Linked DNA regions of Homo sapiens: all the other regions are reported to be linked to region 3. Evidence: microRNA targets listed by miRTarBase, many of them from high-throughput screens and not tested one by one. Region 3 holds a microRNA gene; each other region holds the end of a gene's coding sequence.

Region 1 (5,509 bases), not on the chromosome of region 3:
TGGTAGGAATAAAAGTGCCTTTTAAGTGCAACAATCAGCTTTTACGGTCAAAAAGTAACAGGAGGTTGTATGAAATCTCAGGTCCCCGCCTGCATCAACAGGTATGAAAGGCTTTTTTCAGCAGACTCGGGTTCCGATGGGCTCTTTGTCGGAGGGGCGGCCAGGGCGCTGCTGTTTTTGACTAGCTTGTCTCGGGCCAGAGTATAGAACAGAGCGGCCAGGCGGGGAGCTGGGCCTCCAGATCAGGTCCTGCCCCCATCTGCCCCACAGTCTTCGCGGCAGGGGGGAGCGCGGCCCGCTTCTTTCCAGGCCCTTCTCTCCCCGCGACGGTCTTTCGAGGGAACTCTCGAGGCCCAGACGGCCCCTTAATCTAGTCTTGGGGTCAGGAGGTCAGGCCTTGGAAGCACAGCTAATGCTAAGGCCCTTTATGTATCTTCGCTGCGATCATTTAAACCGTGGACCGGTAGCTCTGGCAAAAAAGGGGCTCCAGGGGTCTAAGAGCCGCAGCGCGCGAGGCGTGGCGGGGGGCGCTGACCTCGCCGACTCGCCGCAGGCCAGCGGGGCGCGGCCACTGCAGGGCGGGTTGGGGGCGGCTGGAGGCCTCGGGGTGGCGGCCACGCTCGGGCAGGGCAGGAGATCTGCGCTCAGTCCTGGAGCCCTTCTTGGCCTTTGTGGCCCTGTCACTCTTTTCACCCCTGGCTGGCCCTAGCCCTTTCTGAATTCGCCTGGACTCCCAGTCGCGCTCGCTGGCCGACGCGGTCGATTCACCAGACAGCGAGTGGGCGTGAGAACGCAGGCTCTTCGGCCGCTTCCCCAGTACGTGGATCCCGGAGCGCGGGTCCTCGCCCCACCGCCCCGGGGAGTGGGCGCGCGGCGCAGGCCGAGCCCTCGGGCGAGCCCGCGCGGGGCTGCACTCCACCGGGCCGGCGCTGGGGGCCGCGCGGGGGCTCCTGGCCCGCTAGGGACTCGGTGGCGGTGGCTGGGTTCCACTCGCCAGCGGCGGGAAGGACGCGCGGGAAAGCGAGGGAGCAGGAAGCGGGTGGCGGCGGCGGCGCGGGGCCCGCTGGAAAGGAGGGAGCGCCGCAGGCGGGAGGAGGGAGCGCGGAGGAGGGAGGCCGGGAGGAAGGAGGGAGCGCGGCAGGCAGGCGGAGGGAGGGCTGATTAGCATGCAGCAGCGCTCGCGCGCCCGGCTCCATTGTTTTAACACCTCCCCTCTCCTCCGCGCCAATCTGTCACCGTTCAGCAGGCGAACGCTGCTGCCTCAAATGCTGCTCTTCTCAAATGAGACGGATAATTAGTTGCCCCGCACGAATGCCGCACTCTTCTCACCCCTGATTGCTATCACCTTCTTGCTCCTGGCAGTTTTGACACCTCGTAATCAGCCTGCTGCTTTTCTCTTTTCTTCCCGACTTCTGCTTCCCTCCCCCCGCTTTCCTTCCTAGTTTATTTATTTATTTATTATTATTATTTTAAATGCAATCCCGGTGCTTATTTGGGCGAGTCCTCCGCCGAGTTAACCTTTCGCGTATACATGTGTGCATTTATCTGTATATGGGAAATTGGGTGTCTGTGCGTGAGCGGGGGGCGGGCTGGCAGTTTTGCGGGAAACACTGCTTCCACGCCGAGAGAACTCGCTTCTCCTAAAGATATTTTTGGGAAGGGAGGAGTTGCAGAGAGGGACGGGAGGGGAGAGTTGGGGAGACCTCAATTAATGCTTTAAAGATCTCTTAGAAATTAACAAACTGGGGAGTCTTGGAATCTGCTGTCAGAAGCGTGTTTTCCCCTCTCTCCTCTAACAAGCACTGACAGTCTAATTACTGTAGCTACAAGCAGCTGTCGAGGCAGCAGCCCGGGAGAGGAGGCGCCACAGGCTGGGCGCGCCCGGCCGGCCCCTGCGCCCAGCCGAACCGCCGAAGCACGGCCCGACTCGGGGAAGGACTCAGGGAGGATGGAGAGGGGCAAGGCCCCGCGCCCGAGAACCCCGGCGGGCCTGCGAGCCAGCGGACACGCTTATTGTTTCCTTAAGTCTTTACCTTGAAGGTTAAAAGATGTGACGAAAGGAGGGGACGTGGGGGGAGTGGGAAGAAAATCTTCTAAGCTTCTATCCACCCCTTTTCTACCTCCTCGAGCTCTCCCTCCCCCCGTGTTGGTAAAATAACCACGCAACCCGGGGCTGAGGGGGCGGGGTGAGCCAGGCTGGAGTGTAAGAAAGCAGATGTCCCCGCTGGCAGCAGCCTCAGCCTCCGGGGAAAGCTGCACCGGGGGGGCCCTCCCGAGGACATTCACCTCCCACTTCTCAGGCATCCCGCTCACAACTGCCTCGCCTCGGCGGGGGTGGTTTTTTCAGACTCGGCGTTTCGCGTGTGCAGCTTTTTTACCTGGGAGCTGTTCTTACCCGGCCACGCTTAGCAGATGCCAAAAGCCAGACCCTGCACGACTCAGTCATGAGACAGAGGGAGAGACCTGGCGGGTGCCCACTCCACCTTTAGAGCGGTGACCCGCGCTCCCTCTGTAGAGCAGGGCAGGGGGCTGCTCTCCAGGCTGCCTTTCCTGTGGCCCCAAAGGGTCTATGTCCCTCACCACGTGGAGCTTAGGGTGCCGCTGGAATCCAGAAGAAAACCGAGTTTGCTAGTCCTGCTAAAAGTGGTGGGGGCGGGGAAAGGATGGGCTGGGGAGGAAGGTCAATGGTACACTTTAATTTGAGTCACCTTCTGGGACACGGAGTTTCCTCTGGTTGTCAGCAAGCTAGTAGATGTCAACTGTGTTGAGAGAAAGTCTTCCCATCTAGAAAAGGACAGGGGAAAAAAAGAATCCCCTTTCACCAGATAGGTACAGTGGTATATTCTGGCTGGTACACGCTGGGAAGTTTTTATTTTTAATTTTGTGTGTGTGTGTGTGTGTGTGTGTGTGTGTGTGTGTGTGTGTGCGCGCGCGCGGAGAAGGGAGGCTGGGTGGGCGGGAAGTGGGGGGAAGGGAAGAAACTTGGATAATTGTCTAGGCATTTCCATTCAGCCCTAGTGGCAATGAAAGAAAGATGTACATACCTCAGAACCCTTCGCAGTGAATACCTAATAATTACTGTCACCCTGGTGAGGAACATGTCAATATGATGTGCTTGGCACCAGGAGAAGTCGAGGCACCACTCTCATTCTTCCACAAGTTAAGGTTCTTCACTGTGGCACAGAGGCCTGCTCAAATTCCCCCATCCCACACCCTCTAGTTTAAAGCACTTGCTTCAAGAAGGCTTAAATTTCTGAGAGTTGCAAATCAATGCTTACTTCATAAAATGGAAGCCATGCCTTAAACACTTTTAAGAATCAGGGGAAAACAGAAACCTATAAGGCGAGAATCATAGGGAATAAAAATGAAAGGGAAGTCTCATTTTAAACAAATTTTGCAGCCGTCTGAATTTGGTATCCACTCTCTCAAATGTCTTCAGTGGCCATCAATCAGGCTGCTAACAATGAATAACAAATTTCTCAACAAGAATATGAACATTTCTAATCTAAGTTAACAAATATAGATAGTCCTTGCAGGGTTTTAGATTTTCTCCCGTTAAAAACAAATGTTTCTTTAGAAAGTTTAGTTTGAAGAATAATTCTAAAATTCAAAGTGATTCACTAATTGTAATAAATGCCACCAAATCTGGTCATCACCATTCTATTAGGTTACTGAAATGAAAACATGAATTTTATAAACTTCCCTAAAAATGTGATTCCTTCCTTCCCTTTTTTTTTTTTTTTTTTTACTCAGGAACAAAGGACATACAAATGATCACAACATAAGTACCTCTTAATATTTAATTAATTTCATCATGTAGCTATACACACAGTAAAAATTAAAGCCATGTATATTATTTAAAAATCTAAAGTGTTTAAATAATTCTACCAGTTGTTTTATCACTGGACAAGAAATGTATTAGGTTTGATATTTACAAAGATGTTTATGTTGTCTGCTATTTTCTATTATAGGTTTATTCAAAGAGAATATCACCTATAGCATAAATAATTAAATTTTTCAATAAAAACAAACTAAAAAAACCCTAGAAACATTTGACATCACCAAATTCAACAGCTCTCACTAGAAATCCAAGCAATAAACTTAGATATTTGAAATAAACATAAATTATGATTATATAACTCTAAGTCACATACATAATTTTGAATTATAGTAATAGCACTGTAAACATGAATACAAAGGATTACAGTTTTATACAGAATTTTTTTTGTTTTTCTTCTTTTAGGCTTATTTCTCCTTGAAAGAACAGAATGATCTTTTAAAAAATAAGAGTTATATAGTAAATCCAGAAAAAAATTCAAATAGCTGTGAAACTAGATTTTCCTATAAATGATCTTGAATTTAGTTTACAATCAAGTATTTATAGTATTAAAAACCCAAAATCATCACATAGAACTTGATATGTCTGTTTTCAAATGTGTCTTAAGTCTCTCCATTGAAGTGTGAATTAAGATGCCGAAGGAAATCCCCCCTGGATGTAATGGATGGTGGGAAAACTGCTTGACAGAATTCACATACTCGAGGTATATGCAGTTCTGAGTCTGTGCCACTTAGTACCACCGAGTCACTGTCTTGATTAGGAAAGGGCTTCCAAATGGGCTGCAGGAAACAAACAAAAATATCTGTTACTTATGTTTAAATTCAAATAGCACTGGACTTCAAATTTGAATTTCTGAATGAGTTACGCATGGGCATATATATTGAATTCCCTAATATAAAAGCAAATTACTTTTCCGTAAAGTTAGCATGACATGACTCAATTCGTGGTTTCATAAAGGGCACAACTAAACTTTGATTAAAAGTCACTTGGGACACACACAGTCATGCATTTTATCTTTATATATTTAAAAAGATTGCAGCTTTAGCATGCAATTTTTAATACTCGATCACAACAGCAGTAGTTTTGGAACAATAGCTAATACTCTGGTCTTTTAAATTAAATTCTATCTTTTGTTTTTTACAATAAAAACCTTAAATTATAGGGGCTTTATTAATTACATAGTACACAAGACATGATGTGTGTGTGCATTGCGTCTTAATCAAAATCAATTTCACTACTGTTTATAAGCAAATACAGTGAATACATCATACATGAATCAGCATTATTTTGATTTTTAAAAAGAAAATTTTCCTTTTAAACTACTGAACAAATTTCACTGATGTTATCTTTTGTTTTTAAAAACACAAATATTTAATCATTCAACAAAATCTAACACATGCAGTGTTTTGACTTCTTACTTTGCTTCTGTTATATAATAGGTAGTTTGGCCTTACTCATTCTTGTGGCTGAATAAAGTGAAACTCGTCAATAGTTGCCTGGTTAAAGAATTATGGAAAGTCATAATCTAACAGAACCACCTCCACTATAACCAGCACATAAATACCCTTTCATAACTGCATTTATTCTTTTTTTTAAATTTCTAGAAGGACAAGAAATAGCATTTAGCTTAATAATAGCTACACAATAGATGTCTGTTAACTGGAAAATATT
Region 2 (5,509 bases), not on the chromosome of region 3:
ACGAGCCTGGTATGCATAACGCTGAAGTCAAGAGTGCCGAGTCGGTCTAGTTAATGGGATGGATGGGTAAACGTGTTTGGGGCGGGGGGCCTTCGAAAGCTCTGGATTTTCACGCTGCCTGCTCACCGCCCGCTTGTGCCCTTTACCCTCCCCAGCCTCCAATCTGCCGCAGGTCGCCGGTTACGTCCCTCTCTCCTTTGGTAGGACCTGGTGGCCTCAAGAGCCAAGTGGGCGTGCTCTGCCTGCCTCATAAGGGCATCTCCTTGCCACCAGCTTCTTTCTCTTGGGTGTGCACTTGTCTCCCCCTTCCCTGGAGGGTACAGCTCCCGGGGTCGGTGGCGGCTCCGATCGCACGCTGCGAAGTTGCGCCTGCCCGTGGCGCCACAGTTCAGTGCACCCACCTCTTTGCTCAAGCCAAGTCCCCCCCGCCGGGCCCTCTAGGAGGGCGGGAACTCCAGGACCCCTGGGTTGCGCTGTTCTTACGATTCTTTATCGTTGCAGAGAAGGAGGACCTTGAGCCTGAAATTCGGATAGTGAACGGGAAGCCAAAGAAAGTCCGGAAACCCCGCACCATCTACTCCAGTTTCCAGCTGGCGGCTCTTCAGCGGCGTTTCCAAAAGACTCAATACTTGGCCTTGCCGGAGCGAGCCGAGCTGGCGGCCTCTCTGGGCCTCACCCAGACTCAGGTGGGGCTCGCGCCCTGCAGGGGCGAGGAGAGCGCGGGCCTGAGATGGCTGGGAAGCAGGCGGGTTTAGGACAATGCTTTTTAAAGTTCATTTTAAGTACTTTTAAGGATTTCCAGGCCTGCGCCTCGAGCGGCCCTAAGTAAGCTTCTAGGCCCAAAGCTGGAAACCCCCAAGGGGCCGCCGTGGGAGGGAAGGAAAGGGACCGGGTGGACAGAAATCCCGTACCTCTCGCTACTGATTAAGCGGGTGAAATAACTGGCCCTCCTCACCCTCCCGCTGTCACCATCATCACAGTGCACGTACACCAGCAGTCCTGGCCTTTTGGCAATTACCTCCCCAGGGAGCAGGAACCGGCAGAGCCTCGAAGGCCGCCGCCCGTGATCCTCTTATCTCCCCAGGGCGCTCGCTGCCCACCGCTAGCCAGCGGTTTTTCTCTGCCTTCTTTTTTCTCCTCTTCGAACCCCTACTGCCCCAAGACTAGGTTCCTCCACTAATGCTCAGGTCTTTTTCCTCAAAGGTCAAAATCTGGTTCCAGAACCGCCGGTCCAAGTTCAAGAAGATGTGGAAAAGTGGTGAGATCCCCTCGGAGCAGCACCCTGGGGCCAGCGCTTCTCCACCTTGTGCTTCGCCGCCAGTCTCAGCGCCGGCCTCCTGGGACTTTGGTGTGCCGCAGCGGATGGCGGGCGGCGGTGGTCCGGGCAGTGGCGGCAGCGGCGCCGGCAGCTCGGGCTCCAGCCCGAGCAGCGCGGCCTCGGCTTTTCTGGGCAACTACCCCTGGTACCACCAGACCTCGGGATCCGCCTCACACCTGCAGGCCACGGCGCCGCTGCTGCACCCCACTCAGACCCCGCAGCCGCATCACCACCACCACCATCACGGCGGCGGGGGCGCCCCGGTGAGCGCGGGGACGATTTTCTAACCCCAGGGAGAACTCGCCAGAGACTGAGAGCAGAGACCACTTATCCTCATTGCTTACCCCGAGCCGGGGTTCCCTCCTCCCGGCCCGCTGCCGCCACCCACCTCTCCTGCAGGCTGCGACCTGCAGTGGCCCGTCTCAGGCCCTGCTCACTCCCGGGGCCACCAAACGGGCCCCTCTCTCGGGGGAACCGGACAGCAGCTTGGCAAAGGCCTCCCTAAAAGGCCGCATTTCTGACCTGAGCCCCGGGTCTCGGCTGTTTCGAGCCCCGCCTCGGACTTGCCTTCCCTCCCCTCCGGGTGAGCCTGTCTGGCGCCTTCCTCGCCCCGGGCTGAGAGCTGGGTCCCGGGAGATGGAAGCCTCCCAGGCGCGCGAGGCTTCCCGGGCGCTCTGAGGCTTCTTTCTCCTCGCCCGCTCCCCTGGGCTCAGCTCGGACGCTGCAGTTATTGACCTCCCGGTCCCGCCTGCCCGCCCTCCCCCACGTGGCCCCTTGACCCGGGCGGCCCCGCCGCTTCTTTCCTTCCTGCAGTTCCCAGCCCTCGGAGCCCCCATCCCTTATCTTACCCCCACCGCGCTCCCCCAGGAGCGCTCCCTCAGCTCTCTCCTCATCCATCACCAGTGGAGTTTTTTTATTTGTTATTTTTTTAAAAGTTTAGGTGCCTTTGCGGATGACCTCATTTTGACGTTGAAAAAATGATTTTTTAATATGTGAACACTGCAAAAATGTGTTTAAATTATCTTTTTTAAAACCTATTCAGGATTATTAGCCTGGACTTGGACACAGAGTTTGTAAATAAAGGTGTCTGTGCAGATTTTCCCACTGATTTATTTGTATAAAAATACTCATCTTTTCAGACTTTTTTGTAAACCCCCAGTTGTGAAAACTGCAGTTTAGCAGTGACCTCAGCAACCCCTCCTTTTTATTTTTTCCTTTAAAAACATTTCAGTTAAATTAAGCTACTGATTTGGATTTGTTTTATCGTATCCTAAAGTCTTTGTTGTTGAAATGAAAGGTATTTTGGGGTTATTTATTATGAAAACAACATGCTCTTAATGTTGATTTTACAATATGAAGAGATTATTTAAATAAATTATTGTTTTCATTGGATGTGTGCGCTTTTTTCTTGGTGCCAGGGTCCGGTCAGTCACGTGCTCAGAGCTCAAGCCGCTGCCCAGGCCGGGAAGCCAGCCGGCCGAGAGCTACGTTTACATCTTTCCGAGGCTGCGACACCGCGAGGTGCGGCAAGGAGAGGACAGGCGCGCTGGGCGTGGGGCCGCACCGGGGGTTTCACGCCCCGCCCCCTCCCGAGTCCCCGCGAGGGATTCTCCGGCCGGCGGCGGGGTGACTCACTCAGCGCGGAGCGGCTCCAGCCTCCGCCTGCCCTGCCCCTCCGGCGCCGGCGCCACCGCCCCCGCGCCCGCCTAGATGGCCAGGCTCGGCACCCCAGCCGCCGCGGGGGACCTCCTGTCAGGGACCTGAGCTCTGCAGCAGCCTGAGGGTCGGAACCCTACTTTGAACCTTCCCCTCCGTTTGTCCCACCGCCCTTCGGGACTGAACTGAGAGCTCTGTGAGTCACCCTCGGGAGGCATGGCTGGCTGCTCTGGAATGCAAGCCGACCCCAACGACACGGGGCCGTGCTCGAGCGCGCGCAAACACACAATCACACACTGAGCACACTGTCACAGGCCCATCTATACTAGCACACACTCACCCATACTGATACACACTCTCACAGTCACACTCATGCTCAAATATTCTCAGGCGCACACACAATGACACACACTCGAACACCGTCACATCACACACTCATACTCCATCACACTCTTACAACACTGACACACGAAGTCATGCACACTCGCATTCATACCCTTACACACTGATAGACAAACTCACATATGCACACTCATGTATACTTACTCACAGACTTATATACACTGGTATGAGAGTGGCATCTTTCCACTTCATACTCTTGGTGGGGGGGATGTCCACACACCACTGGGCTCTGCTTTCTACCTTGGGCCCCACACAACCAGCTTACAACTTTGGAGGTGACCCTGCTTTCTGGCATTCCCTACAAAGGCCAGGGGTTGGTGGTTAATGAAGGTCCCTGAAAGTGCTAGGGCCTTTCCCTGAAAGTGCTAGGGCCCGCAGTTGGAAGCTTCCTGGCTTCAATCACTGACTGTGTGACCTTGGGGAACCCATTTAACCACCCTGTGTTACAGTTTGCAGATCTGTAAGATAGGAGAAATATTAACAGCTATAGCTTGCAGTTGTGAGCATTTAATGAGGCAACAGTGTAACAGTGCCTGGCACATGGTAACAACTCACTAAATTATATCTATTTAATATTTAGTATTACTGTTTTTTCACTACCCCCAGAGAGGGGTATGAAACCCACAGTTACCCAGAGGCTTTCCAACTTCACTTTGTGTGGAAGAGCAACATCCTGGGGCTGGGAAAGCCCCTTCCTACCTGGGGTTTGAACCTCAGCCATGCCCTCTGAAGGGATTCTCCCCTACTGCAGAGGGGCTGGGTGCCAGCCACAGAGCCCCGCCTGCCAGGTCCAGGCTTCGTCTCCTCTAGGATGAGGCCATCTGTGCTGTGTGTCTTCAACTTATCTGCCAAAACCAGACACGGGGCGGAGGTGACTTTCTGGGCTCAGTGGCATCATCCTGAGGAGAATCATGACTTTTCTGAGCAGATTGCTTTGGGGCCTTCTCTGAGTCTGGTTTACAACCATGCGGTCCAGAGAGTTGCGGCTTTGGAAAAAGCAGGGGGGCTACACGATCCAGTGTCCCATTGCATTTTTGCATTGTTTTCCCAGGCTAGGGAGGCCTGGGTTGAAGCCCATTGACCTATGATCCTGGGTTTCCCTAAGCAACCGCTGCCTGGCAGACCCCCATCCCTGTCCACCACCCGCACCCCAGCTCCAAATTCTGTGGGTTTTGTTTCTTTTTTTTTTGTTTTTTTTTTCTTTTTAGTGCCACTAACTGGTGCCAGCCTTCCTCCTGAGGGTGACTGTGCCCTCCCCTCCTTTGCACGCACTCCCCTCCCTCCTCCCGAAACCAGCGGGGAGAGACGGGCAGTAAATTGGCTGGTGTCGAGGATCTGCAGCAGACAAGATGATTAAGAGGCCTACGCTGGAGAGCCCGGGGCAGGGAATGTCAGCCCAAGTTGGAATCACGCAACAGGCCTTGGCATGAGCCAAGCCTGGGAGTCGGGAGGGCGGGAGCTCCCAGCTCCGGGGTGGGCTGAGGCCCCACAGACTCGCCGGAGTCACCTTACCCGGCACCCAGTGACGACAGGGTCGGGCCGGGCCACGGTGTGCCTTTCCCCAGGGAGCCTGCGAAGCCGAGAGCAGGAGGGTGAAGGGGCCAGAGGAAGGGGGTGTTTCCGCAGACCACGAGAAGGGCAAAGAGAAGGGGTTGCAAGGACGCGCCCAGGTCCCAGAAATGAGGGGGCGGAAAGGGGGAGGGGTAGGCAAGGGAGGAAACAAAGCCTGGCTCCTGGAGGCGGGGGCCGGCTCCAGCCCCGCCGGGGGCGACGCGCTGGCAAGCCTTTCTCACAGTCTCCCGGCCCGCCCGGAGACGCGGAGTCCTGTGATCAGCCCGCCGCCGCGCAGACACGCTCCCCCCGTGCTCTACTGAGCTCCCCAAAGCGCGAATGAAAAATGGAAATGGGAAGCAGCGATCTCGGCTCTCTACGCTGGGAAACTAGCAGTGCTCAGAACACACATAAATCTCCATTGTAATCTCCTTCCAATTGCTCGCGTGAAATATCAGGCCAGAGACAGGATATGACAAGCGCTGGGAAGCAGGGGGAGGGAAGCTGAAGAGTGAGGGGTGCACGGCCCTCTCCGCTCCACCCTCTGGCAGGGCTCTCCCAACTCAGGCAGAACGCGGGCAC
Region 3 (5,509 bases):
AGTTGTAGATATGCGGCGTTATTTCTGAGGGCTCTATTCTGTTCCATTGATCTATATCTCTATTTTGGTACCAGTTCCATGCTGTTTTGGTTACTGTAGCCTTGTAGTATAGTTTGAAGTCAGGTAGCATGATGCCTCCAGCTTTGTTCTTTTGGCTTAGGATTGACTTGGCGATGCGGGCTCTTTTTTGCTTCCATATGAACTTTAAAGAGTTGTTTCCGATTCTGTGAAGAAAGTCATTGGTAGCTTGATGGGGATGGCATTGAATCTATAAATTACCTGGGGCAATACGGCCATTTTCACGATACTGATTCTTCCTACCCATGAGCATGGAATGTTCTTCCATTTGTTTGTGTCCTCTTTTATTTCCTTGAGCAGTGGTTTGTAGTTCTCCTTGAAGAGGTCCTCCACGTCCCTTGTAAGTTGGATTCCTAAGTATTTTATTCTCTTTGAAGCAATTGTGAATGGGAGTTCACTCATGATTTGGCTCTCTGTCTGTTATTGGTGTATAAGAATGCTTGTGATTTTTGTACATGGATTTTGTATCCTGAAACTTTGCTGAAGTTGCTTATCAGCTTAAGGAGATTTTGGGCTGAGACAATGGGGTTTTCTAGATGTACAATCATGTTGTCTGCAAACAGGGACAGTTTGACTTCCTCTTTTCCTAACTGAATACCCTTTATTTCCTTCTCCTGCCTGATTGCCCTGGCCAGAACTTCCAACACTATGTTGAATAGGAGAGGTGAGAGAGGGCATCCCTGTCTTGTGCCAGTTTTCAAAGGGAATGCTTCCAGTTTTTGCCCATTCATTATGATATTGGCTGTGGGTTTGTCATAGATAGCTCTTATTATTTTGAGATACATCCCATCAATACCTAATTTATTGAGAGTTTTTAGCATGAAGCGTTGTTGAATTTTGTCAAAGGCCTTTTCTGCATCTATTGAGATAATCATGTGGTTTTTGTCTTTGGTTCTGTTTATACGCTGGATTACATTTATTGATTTGCGTATATTGAACCAGCCTTGCATCCCAGGGATGAAGCCCACTTGATCATGGTGGATAAGCTTTTTGATGTGCTGCTGGATTCGGGTTGCCAGTATTTTATTGAGGATTTTTGCATCAATGTTCATCAAGGATATTGGTCTAAAATTCTCTTTTTTGGTTGTGTCTCTGCCTGGCTTTGGTATCAGGATGATGCTGGCCTCATAAAATGAGTTAGGGAGGTTTCCCTCTTTTTCTATTGATTGGAATAGTTTCAGAAGGAATGGTACCAGTTCCTCCTTGTACCTCTGGTAGAATTCGGCTGTGAATCCATCTGGTCCGAAAATAGTTACATTTTACAAACGAATCTCTAACACATTTTGGTATCTTTTTTTATACTTTGAAAGGACTGTAGCAGGTGTGTGTGAGTGTGTGTGTGTGTGTGTGTGTGTTTATAGCCAGTATGTATATATGTAGCAAATACGTTCATGTGCCATTTAATAATGGAGATGCTTTCTGAGAAATGCATCATTAGGTGACTTCATTGTTGAGAGAACATCATAGAGTGCACATAACACAAACACATTGTGTAGCCTCCTAAACAACTAGGTTATGTCGTATAGCTTATTACTTCTAAGCTACAAACCTGCATAGCATGTTATTGTACTGAACACTGTAGGCAATTACAATGCAGTGGTATTTGTATATCTAAACATATCTAAACACAGAAAAGGTACAGCGAAATATGATATAAAAGATTAAAAAAAATTGCCACCCCTGTATAGGGCACTTTTCATGGAACTTGTGGGAGTAGAAGTTGCTCTGGGTGGATCTGTGAATGAGCAGTGAGCAAATGTGAAGGCCTAAGACGTTACTATGCATTACTGTAGGCTTTATAAACACTGTACACTTAGGTTACACTAAATTTGTTTTAAAAATTAAGTAATTGCACTAATGTCACAATGAGAACAATGCCACTAGAGTTTTTCAGCTCCACTATAATCTATGGAACCACCCTCATGTATGTGATTTGTTCTTGAGCAAAATGTCATCATGCAGCACCTGACTGTATATATATGTAGCAAGTATGTGTGTGCCTGTGTGCGCGTGTGTATATATAAATGTTACATTTACATACACCTGATATGTGCATGTGTAATTATATATGTAACAAGTATGTGTGTGCCTGTGTGCGTGTGTGTACATATACATGTTACATTTACATACACCTGATATGTGCATGTATACATATATAGGTAACAAGTATGTGTGTGCCTGTGTGCGTGTGTGTACATATACATGTTACATTTACATACACCTGATATGTGCATGTATACATATATAGGTAACAAGTATGTGTGTGCCTGTGTGCGTGTGTGTGTATGTGTATATATACATGCTACGTATGTATACACCTGATATGTGTATGTGTAAATACATATCCACACACATAGCAGGTGTATATATAGGTAGCCTGTGTGTGTGTGAGTGCATGTGTGTGTATGTGTAGCAGGGGTTTTGTGTTAGAACCAAGAGCTTGGAACTGGTACAATGAAAATATTTTGCCTGAAAGATATGCTTAGTAAAAGTCCCAAGTTTCACACATTTTTGAGGCTCAAAGTGAAGAACTCAAAGTGAATTATTAGGTAATCATATCTACTTCTTCCTAAACCCTTCATCTGATTGTGTGCTAAAATTTAATACTAACTGATCTTTCCATCTCCATAAAATTCTTTGAGATAACAAAATCCTACATTCCGGTTTCTGAAGGATGGTATTCTGCAAATGTGAAAGTTTCCCTTAACCTCCAAAAAATAATTGGGTTAATCCAGCTACCACAAGTGTGAAATTGAGAAGCTGCTTGCTAAGATTGAATTTAATATTGTCACATGTCATCTGAGAGCTGCTTGTCTGATCATGTTGCCACTGGACAAAGTAAGCCTTACTACAAAGGATAAAAGAATGATTATTTCAATATCCAGTCATAGTTCATCATCAAACTCTGAGTAAAATGGAGAAAAAAAGACGTTTTATCTTATATGACTCTATGCATTTCTCTGGGAAGTCATTTATCTGGTTGCTATCCAGGAGAGCAAAGATAATGGGAAAAATCTTCCACTATTCTCAACTATAATTTTAAATATCAAATTTTAATAAAATAGGTTTTGGTTATTTCTTTTAAAAGCCCTCAATATAAGAAAATGAAATGTTAGAAACTTATTTTATAAAATATATTTGTGAACCATAAAACCCCATATAAAATGGAAATTATTATCACCATTAACTACTGATGCTTCTAATCTTATTCTGTAATGGTTAAAAAATGACTAGAATTTAGAGTTACTGCCAATATATGGGGGGGGGAGGGATTTTATAAAAATAGCTTTATTCATTTGCATGTTAAGCAAGAGTGTGATTACTGATGGCCGTAAGAGTCACTTGCTGCTTTAAGCTCTGCTCTGCTGCTGACTCTACATGTGTAGCTTTGAGAGGTCCTTTAGCCCCTCCAGCTTTCCACATAGGCAGGATGTGGCTATTGTACTTGATGATATGCCAAACATGCTTCTGATTCCAACATTCGATGGTTCTGTGATATTTCTACCTTATTACAAAAGACATTCACTTTAAAAGTATAAACACCGTAGTAACTTTTTTTCTTTCATTGTTTTCAATAAAAGGGTAATGGAAGTAAACTGACAAGTTTAGGAGGCTTTCAGAGCATAAAGGAGAAAGGCTGGCAGCTCTTGAGAACCTCTTTGCTTTCAGCTGAGAGCAAGTAGAGAATGCTTGCTCTCTGGCCCTGAATGTCATAACATTATGTTCAGAATCATTGAAATGTCTGACAACACTGTTGATTAAAAATGAGAATCATTAGGCCATGTCTGCCGTTATAGGATGAAGGGTAGTTTGAACAGTATGGAAAAAAACTATCCCAAAAGGATGATTTGTCTTAGACAATATTACCAAAATTTCAAATTATACTATGTATAGTAATTTGCAGTAATTCACTTTTTTTTTATATTTAGCTTCATCTTAAAAGTTCTCCTTCATTGGTAATGCTTTGAAAAATGCTGGATTTAGAATTATGAAGAGACTATCAACTAATATTATGGATGATATTATTATTATTATTATTTTTTGAGACGGAGTACTCGCTCTTTCGCCCAGGCCGGACTGCAGTGGCGCTATCTCGGCTCACTGCAAGCTCCGCCCCCCGGGTTCTCGCCGTTCTCCTGCCTCAGCCTCCTGAGTAGCTGGGATTACAGGCGCCCGCCACCGCGCCCGGCTAATTTTTTGGATTTTTAGTAGAGATGGGGTTTCACCGTGTTAGTCAAGATATGGATAATATTATTTAGAAACCATTCTGTGTGCTACAAAAGTCCTTTGAGAATGATATGAGCTGGGCACGACGGCTCATGCTTGTAATCCCAGCTCTTTGGGAGGCCAAGGCGGGTGGATCACCTGAGGTCAGGAGATCAAGAGTAGCCTGGCCAAGATGGCGAAATCCCGTCTCTACTAAAAATACAAAAATTAGCTGGGTGTGGTGCAGGGGCCTGTAATCCCAGCTACTCAGGAGGCTGAAGCAGGAGAATCACTTGAACCCAGGAGGCGGAGGTTGCAGTAAGCCAAGATCATGCCACTGCCCTCCAGCCTGGACAACTCCATCTATTAAAAAAAAAAAAAGATAACCACTAAAATGGCTATTATTCATCTTTCAAAATCTGTAATACCTGGAAGTTCTGCATGACCTTTAGGAAAACTACATCCACAAAGCGTTCCTTCTAGTTTCCTAATAAGTTTTAGAAGAAATATTGCCATTCTGAGCTAAACTAGTTCTACTTCCTTAGGGCAAATTCCTACCATAACATGAAATAGACAAATATAATTACTCTAAAAAAAGTCCAGCCATAGCATCTTAGAGTTTAAAGGAATAACCCTTAGGAGTTCACAAAATTTTTTTTCCACTGCTTCCTAGGCAGACCTCATTTAGTGTAGCTGGCGTGTTGCCCTGCAGACTTTACTGAACTGCTAGTACAGGAGTCGCTATGTTTTTAGCTAGCCCATTCAGTTTTTGTAAAGCTCCATCATTACATTTTTCATCATACTGACCTAATACCTAGCTATATTTAGCTTGCTCACGCTCTGCCTTCTGGAGCGAAAACATGCATGTCTGTGCATTCTCTATATCTACCTAGTATCAGTTAGAGTTTCGTGTTTTCCTTCATGTAACAGAAAACTCATTAACAGTGGACTTCTCCAAATACTTCTCTAAATATTTTTCTCACAAAATGAGAAATCGAATGAAGCGTTGGTGTTAATTCAGTGTCTTGAAGATATTAGACCCAAGCTCTCTGTCTTTTCCTCATGGTTGCTGATAAAGGCTGAAGCTATAGTCATCATTGTAATATTCCACTTGGAGAAAGAAGAAAGGCACATGCCCACTAAGGCTAACTGATCTTTTAAAGGGTCTGTTCTTAAAGTCCTGACCAACATATGCCTCATTGGCCTTAACTAAAATGGGATTTGA
Region 4 (5,509 bases), not on the chromosome of region 3:
TCTGGTTTTGCCACGTGGCACATTTTTCTTACCTGATTTCTTCTGGAATAAGGAAAGAATAAACAGAGACAGAGCAGACCAGACATGATTCTGTCTTTTCAGTCTGAAAATCCTCTAATTCTCTAATCATAGATTGTACGTAGGGGTTTTCTTTTAACCAGAAAATGTGACAACAGTTTAATAATGAGTATAGTTCCTTTTTTATAAAGATTCATTTTTAACTCAACAGAGGCAAAATAAAAAATAACTTTTTGTGAATATTAGTAACGACAGTGAACTAAAAGCTTAAACTTGAAATTTAGTGTAAGCATACCGTGCTAAAGGCTAGGCATATGCCCACAACCCTGTTTTACAGAGTAGTAGAAAGTTTCGTGTCTTAACCAAGGCCGTATAACTTATCAGTGATAAATAGACATCCAAAACAAAACCAATCCGATTCAGCCTTTGGGACCTTCCCGATTTCCCTGGGGCATTTGTAGGAAGCATAAGTAAATCTTTGATCCCAGTTACCCAGGAGGCTGAGGTGGGAGGATCGCCTGAGCCCAAGAGGTCAAGGCTGAAATGAGTGGTGGTCGTGCCACTGCACTCCAGCCTGGGTAACAGAGTGAGACCCTGTCTCAAAAAAATTTTATTTAATTTTTGAAATCGATTCACTTTTTAAAACCCATTTTATACTCCCAATCACCAATTTAAGCAAATAAACTGACAGGTGTGCAGGTGTGGATGCCTTCCTTCTTTGCAAACGTCCTGGCTATACTGCTCCCTGCTCTGTAGACGTTGTCTCCTGCACACAGTCCCAGCTGCTAAATCTGCAAATGAAACCAGGATTCTAATGATTTGTTTTCTGTTTTCCTTAGAACGAGACCAAAAGTTCAATACAATGGCTATGCTGGGCATGAAAACAGCAATGGACAAGCATCGTTTGAAAACCCCATGTATGATACAAACTTAAAACCCACAGAAGCCAAGGCTGTGAGGTTTGACACAACTCTGAACACAGTCTGTACAGTGGTATAGCCCTCAGTGCCCCAACAGGACTGATTCATAGCCATACCTCTGATGGACAAGCAGTGATTCCTTTGGTGCCATATACCACTCTCCCTTCCACTCTGGCTTTACTGCAGCGATCTTCAACCTTGTCTACTGGCATAAGTGCAGCGGGGATCTCTACTCAAATGTGTCAGGGTCTTCTACGGATCAAACTACACATGCGTTTTCATTCCAAAAGTGGGTTCTAAATGCCTGGCTGCATCTGTATGAAATCAAGGCACACTCCAGGAAGACTGCCACGTCGCGCCAACACGTCATACTCAATGCCTCAGACTTTCATATTTCTGTGTTGCTGAGATGCCTTTCAATGCAATCGTCTGGGCTCGTGGATATGTCCCTCAGGTGCGGTGACAGAATGGTGGCACCACGATATGTGTTCTCTTGTGTTGTTTTTCCTTTTTAAACCCCCATGAACACGAATACTCTGAAAAAAATAAAAAGCTTTCTGGAAGAAGACACCTTTCTGATAGAGGCTCACACCTACAAATGCTTCACTCTGTCCTTCCGAGACCTGACAAGCTTTGAGGACCTCACAGCTCCCCTGTGTGTTCATCTCTAGGGATGTTTGCAATTTCCCAGTCAGCTGTTCTGTCGCAGAATGTTTAATGCACAATTTTTTGCACTAGTGTGTTATGAATGACTAAGATTCTGATAAAAAAAATAAATTATTTACACAGGGTTTATACACACTATCCATTGTATATAAGCATTATTTCATATTATCAAGCTAAACATTCCCCCATCAGCTTAGTTGGAGTGTTAGGGAAAAGTATTCCTAGATATGGCACAGATTTTAAAAGGAAATACAGTATTGAAGAGATTTATTTTATTATTGCTTCAATTAGCTCCATTTACGTGTTGAATTCATTGAAGAGGTCCAATGAGAAAAAAACAGAAGCCTCCTTATTTCACACGTTTTCCTCCTTTAGTACCATCCTCATCCAATTACTGTCTCTCTGATACTACTTAATAGCAGGGGGTTTGCAGAAATTTCTGTTTGCCATGTAAAACTGTGAATAGTAATTTATTTTAGATAGTCGATGAACTTGTGGGTTTTAGCTCACAATGCAGCCTTCCCTTTTGCAGTGTTTTTTTTTTGTTTTTTTTTTTTTTTGTCTTTTACTGTGCCATCGATCTTTGATATTGCATTGAAAGACAATATACCACAGTAGCACCTTGAACTCAGTGAAAATTGTTCAGGATCAAAATACCAAGTGTTCTTTTAGAGGGAAGGAAAAAGTACACACACTCTCCTCTCACAATGATATATTTTATACATTCATTTGTTATTTGTTTCATGCTTTATGATTCCAGATGGAAAGGTAATTTCAGTGACTTTTCAAGTTTAAATTCCATTATAGGTAAATGATAAGTTATGATGCAAATAAAATCTATAAGATCCCCAGGGCAAATAAAAATCAAAACATGAAGTAGAAGATGTGGCCGTGAGGTAGTTTATGTAACAAATTCAAAGTGAAAATCATGTTTACTTTTACTTATACTTATTTGATAAAAATATTTTTGAAACGATAGTACTTATTTTATTATTTGATATTTCAGTTCCTATTCAATTGTGGCAGATTTTCTCTGTTTCACATTTTAGATTGGCGTTGGTAATAGAAATGTCAGAATGTTCAAATTGGCCTTCACGTTGTCGGAGTGAACACATTGACACCTAGCTTTAAGACTGATTTATCTGTTGGTGTACTGAAGGTTTCCATGTAGGACTTCAAATGTGGAAAAGGAAAAGCAGTCAGGAAAATGGGGCATTCTTTGGAGAGTCACGCGTTTTGATTCGGACATTTCCGTAGAGCTCGGCTCCCAGTGTTGTGTTCCTCGGTCGAAAGGGTCTCTGCTGTTTGGGGACTCACTGGCCTCTCCTAGGGACTCCTTTGTCTTGTGAACCCCACGCTGTTGGATTCTGTATCATTATGCTGAATTCTCTGCACAGTTTTCCCTGGCCAACCTGCCCACATCCTTGGAGATTTGCTTTGCCAGTGGGAATCCTTACATTGCTGTTTCACAGTAGACGGGACGAGGTCAGCGGGAGTCGTGCTCCTAACACACACATTGAACGAAACAGAAGATGATTGAAAGTGTGAGGAGGCTCGTGTGCAAGGGAGAACAGGGTTACTATACATATTAGTGTATATATATACATACATATATATATATATATATTGTACATATCTAAGTTTGAGTCATTCAAACTAGGTGCAAAATGCTGACTTCAGAGTCTGAATTAACATCTCTGTTCCCATATCCCTGACCTGCTCCCTGGTCAACGATGCTATGAAATCCTGAAATGACAGGACATACATACATACAAGAAACCACATATCAAATTAGATATGATTTTCCTTTGTGTGCAAAGTCAAACTGTCCTAGGGTTGCCAGTTTGAAGCATGTTATTTAAATGAAAAAAAAAATCAGTGAAATTCTCGTGTGAGAATTCTGCCTAGTTTCTTCCTAAGGTTGTGTGCAGTGTTGAACGGCGTCTCCGCAAGGTGTTGGAGGATCTCATTTTAGGGCAGTCAGGAGCTGTGCTTGCTGAGTTAGGTCTAGAAGACTCTTCCCTGAAGGCAACGGGAACACGCGTGAGGGACGCGACCACACACTAACAGAGGACACGTGCTTCAGAGCTGTTTAAAACTGCTGCTTGTTTTACACACACATCTTGCCTTTTTTCAGGCTAGCTGCAATAATTTTTTTCTTCTGTAAAATATTTTGTAAACAACAACAAAAAGCTATTATAAAAAGGGGGTAAAAAAAAGAACGCTGGCATTATGATCAGGAAAACCCATTGTCATCGCCGACCCTCCCTCCCGTCCCACCACACGCTGCTGTCACGACGTAGGTGCGAAAGACCTTTTTGTACAGAGATATATTTTTTATGAAGAATTTGTAAAATTATTAAATATGCTGTAATTTTTTGATTAATGTAGGTACATTGTTAAAAAATAAATGTTTTTACAATACAGAACTGTAATTTTCCCAATAATGTAAAATGTACCATCTCTAGCTGATTTTCAGTTCCAATCCTATTACACATGTATTAATATTAAAGTGGCCTGTTAAAATGAACAGTATCTTTTTTTTGTCAAAAAAATTATAAAGAGGGTGTAATATAGCCTGTGCAATGCCACCAATCTTTAAAGCAAATCAGAGTTCTAATTAAATATTTAATTTTAGATTTCTATTTTTCTGTGTGAATTTATTTTCACTTTAATATGCGCACCTGAGTCCCTTGCAGGGGAGGGAAGGAATGGGAGTCTTCATAATGAGCCTTTAGGATATTCAAAATGAAGCTCCATATTTTTCCCACGACATTCACATCATCGTCATGATTAATCAATAGCACATTTAGCAGGAACCATGAGACACAGAATAGTAACGTTGAAGCTGACAGATTTCTTGATGGTTCACATTAAAAACGGTAAGAAAACTTGGTTTCCTCCAAACCAAAACCTATGTTTTTTTATGATTTCTTTTCAATTTGGGAGCTCTGTTTGTAAACGTTCACCACACTAAAAAAATGACATGAAAGAGAATTATAGACCTACTTAACAGAGCACTCCAAATAACACATTTAAAGAAGGCTCAAAAAAATCAAACCGCTTTTTAAACTCAGAACCAGCGGTCCCCCGTTCATTTCTGGGCTGACAGAAAACACAATGCTTTACACGTCCTTGGTGGCCCATCACGCCGAATGTCTTGCAGTTCAACAGAATGATACACTACTTTCTCTGAGAGTCAAGTTATTACAAAATGAAAAACAACCAATAATATTTCCAAAATAGCCCACGGTGGCTTCGCAGCGACCAAGTTTTGATGTCCAACTTGCAATCTGAGTCTTGCTGGCCAGCAACTGCATTTAGGTGCCATTTATTGAGGAAATACCGAGCGCGAGACACTGCACTTTGTGACTCGCAGACGTTGCAAAACCCCCATAATCCAACCGAGAGGGTTTTGCCACTTTGATAATTTAGATGAAGAAGCAGGAAGTTAAATAAGTTGGTTGGTTTACCCAACGACACACAGATAGGCAGAGCTGATATTACAGGTCAGGTTTCTCTTGCTTCAACTTTCTCATTTTTCAAGAAACCGTCACATTATGAAATGCATCCAATATTCCCTTTCTTATCCAATTTTTTTTCTGAATTTTTCTGTCATTCTACCTGTGAATCTTCTTTTGCTTCATTGAGTAAATAATTACCAAAGCTAAGAATTCAAAGGGAAATAAGTACTCTCTATTACTAATTTTCACATTCCACAGAATGCTCATACATAATACACCCTTGTGAGTTATTAACATATTGAGTTGAAGCTTTCGGGGGCAGCAAGAAAGTAGTGATCCCACAGTGTGTTTCACGCTACGGTTCTTTAAAATAATAAATAAAATCTGTCTTGCTCTGTGCCTCGGTTTGAGTGCTTTCCTAAAAAATATGGGGCTTCTATA

The links. Region 3 holds the annotated microRNA hsa-miR-4789-5p (GUAUACACCUGAUAUGUGUAUG, at 2,389-2,410, shown strand). A microRNA usually pairs through its seed, bases 2 to 8, with sites in the 3' UTR of a target mRNA and lowers its output. Matches are read on the target gene's strand: a 7mer-m8 pairs with bases 2 to 8, a 7mer-A1 pairs with bases 2 to 7 and ends in A, and an 8mer does both.
Region 1: the mRNA of TANK is a reported target of hsa-miR-4789-5p. Seed matches in the 3' UTR shown: 7mer-A1 at 4,210-4,216 and 7mer-m8 at 3,822-3,828.
Region 2: miRTarBase lists DLX2 as a target of hsa-miR-4789-5p. Seed matches in the 3' UTR shown: 7mer-A1 at 2,433-2,439.
Region 4: the mRNA of CSMD1 is a reported target of hsa-miR-4789-5p. Seed matches in the 3' UTR shown: 7mer-m8 at 3,196-3,202.

What each region holds. Positions count from the first base shown.
Region 1 is chr2:161,234,450-161,239,958 of GRCh38, reverse strand. It overlaps TANK (TRAF family member associated NFKB activator), which reads right to left. Exons shown (of 8, transcript NM_001199135.3): 8 at 3,729-4,617. The coding sequence ends at 4,441. The region is part of intron 3 of PSMD14-DT (PSMD14 divergent transcript); the gene reads left to right. Among named protein-coding and RNA genes, the nearest start is that of LINC01806, 7.5 kb to the left of the region's middle. RefSeq lists silencers at 658-727, 818-1,187 and an enhancer at 1,019-1,575.
Region 2 is chr2:172,096,639-172,102,147 of GRCh38, reverse strand. DLX2 (distal-less homeobox 2) reads left to right here. Exons shown (of 3, transcript NM_004405.4): 1 at 1-9; 2 at 502-686; 3 at 1,204-2,710. The coding sequence ends at 1,605. Among named protein-coding and RNA genes, the nearest start is that of DLX2, 3.5 kb to the left of the region's middle. RefSeq lists a silencer at 2,806-3,035.
Region 3 is chr3:175,367,164-175,372,672 of GRCh38, forward strand. It overlaps MIR4789 (microRNA 4789), which reads left to right and starts at 2,377; the gene lies at 2,377-2,458. All of the region lies in intron 5 of NAALADL2 (N-acetylated alpha-linked acidic dipeptidase like 2), which reads left to right.
Region 4 is chr8:2,934,093-2,939,601 of GRCh38, reverse strand. It overlaps CSMD1 (CUB and Sushi multiple domains 1), which reads left to right. Exons shown (of 70, transcript NM_033225.6): 70 at 858-4,241. The coding sequence ends at 1,017. All of the region lies in intron 6 of LOC105377785 (a long non-coding RNA gene), which reads right to left. Among named protein-coding and RNA genes, the nearest start is that of LINC03021, 210 kb to the right of the region's middle.